Linked DNA regions of Homo sapiens: region 2 is linked to region 1. Evidence: fine-mapped expression QTL. A gene starts in region 1. The other region holds a variant in brackets. All regions are shown on one strand. Distances are from middle to middle.

Region 1 (2,881 bases):
ATGACAGCTCACTAAGTGCCAGGATTTTCTCATTTGGTCCCCTGTGTAAGTCCTCAGCCTGGATTTTCTCATTTGGTCCCCTAGGAGGTTGGGACTATTCATAACGCCATTTCACAGAGGCAGAAGTCGTGAAGCTTAGGCCACCCGCCAGCTGTGTGTGACCTGCATCTCTGAAACCAGCTTCACTAAGAATACCAACCAGAGGCCAGGCACGGGGGCTCACACCTGTAATCCCAGCACTTTGGGAGGCTGAGGCAGGAGGATCACTTAAAGCCAGGAGTTCGAGACCAGCCTGGACAACATAGTAAGACCCCTTCTCTTTAAAAAAAAAATTTTTTTTTTTAAATTAGCTGGGCACAGTGGTGACCGCCTGTGGTCCCAGCTACTTGGGAGGCTGAGGCAAGAGGATTGCTGAGCCTGGGAGCTCGATGCTGCAATAAGCAGTAATCTTGCCACTGCACTTCAGCCTTGCCAGAGACCTTGCCAAAAAAAAAAAAAAGAACACCAACGCCAGGCACAATGGCTCAGGCCTGTAATCCCAGCACTTTGGAAGGACGAGGCAAACAGATCACTTGAGGCCAGGAGTCTGACACCAGCCTGGCCAAAATAGCAAAACCCGTCTCTACAAAAAATACAAAAATTAGTTGGGTGTAGGGGTGCGTGCCTGTAGTCCCAGCTACTCCAGAGTCTGAGGCAGGAGAATCGCTTGAATCAGGAGGTGGAGGTTGCAGTGAGACCAGATTGTGCCACTGCACTCCAGCCTGGGTGACAGAGCGAGACTCAGTCTCAAAAAAAAAAAAAAAAAGGACAGCGTCAGCGTCTTTCACCTCCTCCGGAGTTTGGCGCATGGTAGGGGTTCAATCAGTGTTCTCTGGACAGTGTTTCAACAGAACAACCTTGCAAGGGAGCTTCACCGGCTTTCTCCCCAAGATGTCTTCATTCCAACCTACCAACATAACAGCAGCTGCCACTTATGTATTGTGCTACTGTGTGCGAAGCTGTGGGATCTGGTGCCTTTTATGGTAAGATTGTAGGCCTCATTTTACAGGAAGGAAACTGAGGCTCAGAGAGACTGGCAGGACCAAGATTAGACACTCGTATCCATCTGGCCCCCAAAAGCAGGATTTTAACAGCTAAGAATATGGTCTCAGTTCCACAGGCCCACCCCAGGGCTCCTGAACCCCAATTCGAGGCTGCATGCCCTCAAACCAGTTCCCTCACTCCTTCAGCCTGATGCTTTGGGGCATCTTGTCCAGGAGGCCTTCCCCCTTTAATCTCTATCTCTTGTACTTGTGACTATCTTGTAACTTACACTGGCGCCCTCCATACACAATTCACATATGCCCCCAAGGGGCCTCAGAATAAATGGTGGCGAGGAGAAAAAAGCATTGGCAGGAGGGGAATGGAGGCAGGCACCTGGACTGCGGGCACAGGCGGGAAAATTCAGATCTAGGCGCTTGGCCTGCTCCCCGCAGGGGCGCAGTTCCCGGCGCGGCCACCAGATCGCGCCCGGCTCTCTCGGGCGGGGCTTGCAGTAAGGCTGTGTGGCCGCCAGATGATGCCCGAGACCGCGGCTCCGCGGGTAGTGCCCCGACAAGGTGGAGCCCGGCGGGCCCGCGAGTCCGAGACCTGTCCCAGGAGCTCCAGCTCACGTGACCTGTCACTGCCTCCCGCCGCCTCCTGCCCGCGCCATGACCCAGCCGGTGCCCCGGCTCTCCGTGCCCGCCGCGCTGGCCCTGGGCTCAGCCGCACTGGGCGCCGCCTTCGCCACTGGCCTCTTCCTGGGTGAGCAGGACCTGGTCCCGGCGGGCGGGTGGGCGGGCGCAGAGTAGGGCGCGGCGTGGCTCAGGTTAATCCAACACCCTCTCCCCGTCAGGGAGGCGGTGCCCCCCATGGCGAGGCCGGCGAGAGCAGTGCCTGCTTCCCCCCGAGGACAGCCGCCTGTGGCAGTATCTTCTGAGCCGCTCCATGCGGGAGCACCCGGCGCTGCGAAGCCTGAGGCTGGTCAGCAGGGCGCGGGACGGAAACGGGCGTCCCTCTCGACCCCTGCGGGTCCCACGTGGCTGTGTGACCTTGGGCTGGGCCCTGGCCCTCCCTGGGCTTCCGGCTTCCCTGGGCCGGGTGCGGTGGGCGTTCCGAAGGGCCAGTCCCCCAGGCCACGCCCAGAACCGCGCCCCTGGGGCTTGGGACCCCCAGGGCGAAGGTGGGTGACCTGCATGGCTGGTGCCACCCTCTCCTTTCACGCAGCTGACCCTGGAGCAGCCGCAGGGGGATTCTATGATGACCTGCGAGCAGGCCCAGCTCTTGGCCAACCTGGCGCGGCTCATCCAGGCCAAGAAGGCGCTGGACCTGGGTAGGGGCACGCGGCCGGGATCCCGGAGGGCCGAGGTTTCCGGGCCGACCCCCACTCTGGGCTGAGCCCGTCTGTGTCCTGGTCCCAGGCACCTTCACGGGCTACTCCGCCCTGGCCCTGGCCCTGGCGCTGCCCGCGGACGGGCGCGTGGTGACCTGCGAGGTGGACGCGCAGCCCCCGGAGCTGGGACGGCCCCTGTGGAGGCAGGTGAGCGCCCGCGCCTAGCTCTGCAGCCCCAGGCGGGGGCGCAACGGCTGACCCGCTCCCTCCGCAGGCCGAGGCGGAGCACAAGATCGACCTCCGGCTGAAGCCCGCCTTGGAGACCCTGGGTGAGCACCGAAGCGGGAAGGGCTTTGAAGCCATTCATTGCAAACGAGGCTGCTGTGTGGCCGAGCTGTGACTGGGCCTGCCGGGCAGGTTAAGGGCAGGGCCGGTTGTCACAGAGCCCGGGCCGGCCTGGGAGGGGCCTCAGGGCCGCCGGGGCCGCGGACTCAGCCGCACCTGCCCTCCCTCCCCCCGCAAGACGAG
Region 2 (2,901 bases), 37 kb after region 1:
CAGGAGGTGGAGGTTGATCCTCCAAGATCGTGAGCCAAGTGAGCCAAGATCATGCCACTGCACTCCAGCCTGGGCAACAAGAGCCAGACTCGGTCTCAATTAAAAAAGAAAAAAAAAAAAAGGGACTTTCCAGCCAGGCTCAGTGGCTCATGCCTGTAATTCCAAAACTTTGGGATGCTGAGGCGGGCAGATCACTTGACCTCAGGAGTTTGAGGCCAGCCTGGGCAACATGGCAAAACTCCATCTCTACCAAAAAATACAAAATAATTAGCTGGGTGTGGTGGCACACACCTGTGCTCCCAGGTACTTGGGAGGCTGAGGTGGGAGGGTCGCTTGAGCCCAGGAGGCGAAGGTTGCAGTGAGCTGAGGTCGCGCCACTGCACTCCAGCCTGGGTGACAGAGTGAGACCCTGTCTCAAAAAAGAGAAAAAAAAAGGCTTTCCTATTCATTGTTCAGTCAGTAACCTGTGGCCTTGCTCAGAGTTCTGGTTGGAACACTGGTGAAACACTGTTTTGTTTCTTTAAAAAGCTCAGCACAGCTGGGCGCAGTGGCTCACGCCTATAATCCCAGCACTCTGGGAGGCCGAGGCAGGCGGATCACGAGGTCAGGAGTTCGAAACCAGCTTGACCAACATGGTGAAACCCCATCTCTACTAAAAATATAAAAATTAGCGGGCCGTGGTGGCGCACACCTATAATCCCAGCTACTCAGGAGGCTGAGGCAGGAGAATCACTTGAACCTGGGAGGCAGAGGTTGCAGTGAGCTGAGATAGCGCCATTGCTCTCCAGCCTGGGCAATAAGAGTGAAACTCCATCTCAAAAAAAAAAAAAAAAAGCTCAGCACATTCTGTGGGAATGCTTAGCCCCAATAGTGGGGATAACGCAGAGACTCCTGCTCAAGGATCTTCAGTGGCTCCCATTTACCCATAGGATAAGGTCCCTGACACAATGATGATGGAACCATGATCCTATCTTGCCTCTGTCACAGTCATGTTTCCCACCTGCCACCTGTGCCAATTCAGGTCACAGGCAATTCCCAAATCACGGTTTGTTTAGTGTCACTGCCATTGCTTATGCTCACTGTACCTAGAATGCCTCCTTGTCCCCACTGTTTTAAGTTAAATTCTCTGAATCCTTATAAAGCCCAGCTCAAATATACTCCCACCACAATTTTCTTCTGTCTTACCAGCTACAAGTTCATTTTATTTCCTCTGAAATTCTATGGAATTTGTTACCTTATAACATTTATTACATATTTTCTTTTTTTTTTTAATTTTCCGAGTGAACATCATTAACACAATATTTTCGTTTTTCTTTTCTTCCTTTCCTTTTTATATTCTTTTTTTCTTTTTTTTCTTTTCTCTTATTTTTCAAAACAAATGCAGTGGCGCAATCTCAGCTCACTGCAGACTTAACCTCCCAAGCTCAAGCAATCCTTTCACCTTAGCCTTCCAAGTAGCTGGGACTACAGGCACGTGCACCACCATACCTGGCTATTTTTCTTATTTTTGTAGAGACAGGGTCTCTCTATATTGTCCAGGCTGGTCTTGAACTCCTGGGCTCAAGTGATCCTCCTGCCTCGGCCTCTCAAAGTTCTGGGATTACAGGCATGAGCCACTATCCCCAGCCCA[C/T]TTTTTTTTTTATACTAAAAAAAACCAAAAACCACAACTCTGCTTTCCCCATCAAGCTCTTCAATAGAATCTTGCCCTGCCCTGCCCTGCCCTGCCCTGTCCTGCCCTCCTTTCTTTTTTTTTTGAGACAGAGTTTCACTCTTGTTGCCCAGGCTGGAGTGCAATGGCGTGATCTCAGCTCACCACAACCTCCGCCTCCCAGGTTCAAGTGATTCTCCTGCTTCAGCCTCCCAAGTAGCTGGGATTACAGGCATGTGCCACCACGCCTGGCTAATTTTGTATTTTTAGTAGAGATGGGGTTTCTCCATGTTGGTCAGGCTGATCTCAAACTCCTGACTTCAGGAGATCCACCCGCCTCAGCCTCTGAAAGTACTGGGATTACAATTGTGAGCCCCCCGCGCCCGGCTGAGAATTGTTTCTTACTCAACTCTATCCCCACCACCCACCAAATATCTAATAATGATGACACTAGTCATGAATAATAAACACAATCAAAGTAGTCATGGCTAACACATATCAGGCACTTCCTTTGTGCCAGGCATTGCTCGAAACAATTCATGTGCTTTATTTAATTCTCTCTCTCTTTTTTTTTTTTTTGAGATGGAGTCTTGCTCTGTCACCCAGGCTGGGGCGCAGTGGCACGATCGTGGCTCACTGCAACCTCTGACTCCCAGGTTCAAGTGAGTCTCCTGCCACAGCCTCCCAAGTAGCTGGGATTACAGGCACCCACCACCATGGCCGGCCTATTTAATTCTCATAACAACCCTATGAGACAGGTACCATTAAGCGTGAAACACAAGCTTACGGAGATGCACAGGCCTGGCTTGGGATGCATAGCTAGTTCTTCAAGAGCTAGAGACAGAATCTAAGCCAGCTCTCTCTGAGTGTGAGGCGCATACTCTGAGCCACCACTTATATTGCCTCCTCATTGTCAAAGCCTTCCCCATGGAGGGTGACTAGTAATATTTATACAACATTTAAAGAGTCCACTGCTTTGGACTATTCCAGTCATGACTTGCATCCATTGACAGAGTTGCCTTCAAAATTCTTTCCTTTTAAATTTGTAGTGAGGACAGGAGCTTCCACAGTGAGGGTAAATTGGGCAGCAGGGAGGGGGCTTCTCCAAGACCTTTCACTGGGTCACCACTGAGAATGTCTCGTGATTCACATCCCACAGCTGCCTGAATCTACTATGTGGCTGCCCTGTGTCTCTGGGGCCAGTGTGGGAGGCAATGGAAGGAGGGAAAGGGAGCATTCTGAAGCCTGGGAAA

The links. PIP is the estimated chance that this variant, and not a neighbour inherited with it, causes the effect.
Region 2: its variant is fine-mapped to the expression of COMTD1 in whole blood (TOPMed, PIP 0.99).

The regions. Positions count from the first base shown.
Region 1 is chr10:75,234,739-75,237,619 of GRCh38, reverse strand. It overlaps COMTD1 (catechol-O-methyltransferase domain containing 1), which reads left to right and starts at 1,663. Exons shown (of 7, transcript NM_144589.4): 1 at 1,663-1,785; 2 at 1,877-2,004; 3 at 2,248-2,353; 4 at 2,442-2,560; 5 at 2,628-2,682; 6 at 2,877-2,881. The coding sequence starts at 1,692. RefSeq lists silencers at 1,415-1,709, 1,745-1,884, 2,045-2,124, 2,255-2,544, 2,705-2,881.
Region 2 is chr10:75,198,104-75,201,004 of GRCh38, reverse strand. No RefSeq gene overlaps it. Among named protein-coding and RNA genes, the nearest start is that of VDAC2, 11 kb to the left of the region's middle. The variant C/T (reference allele first, on the strand shown) is at 1,631.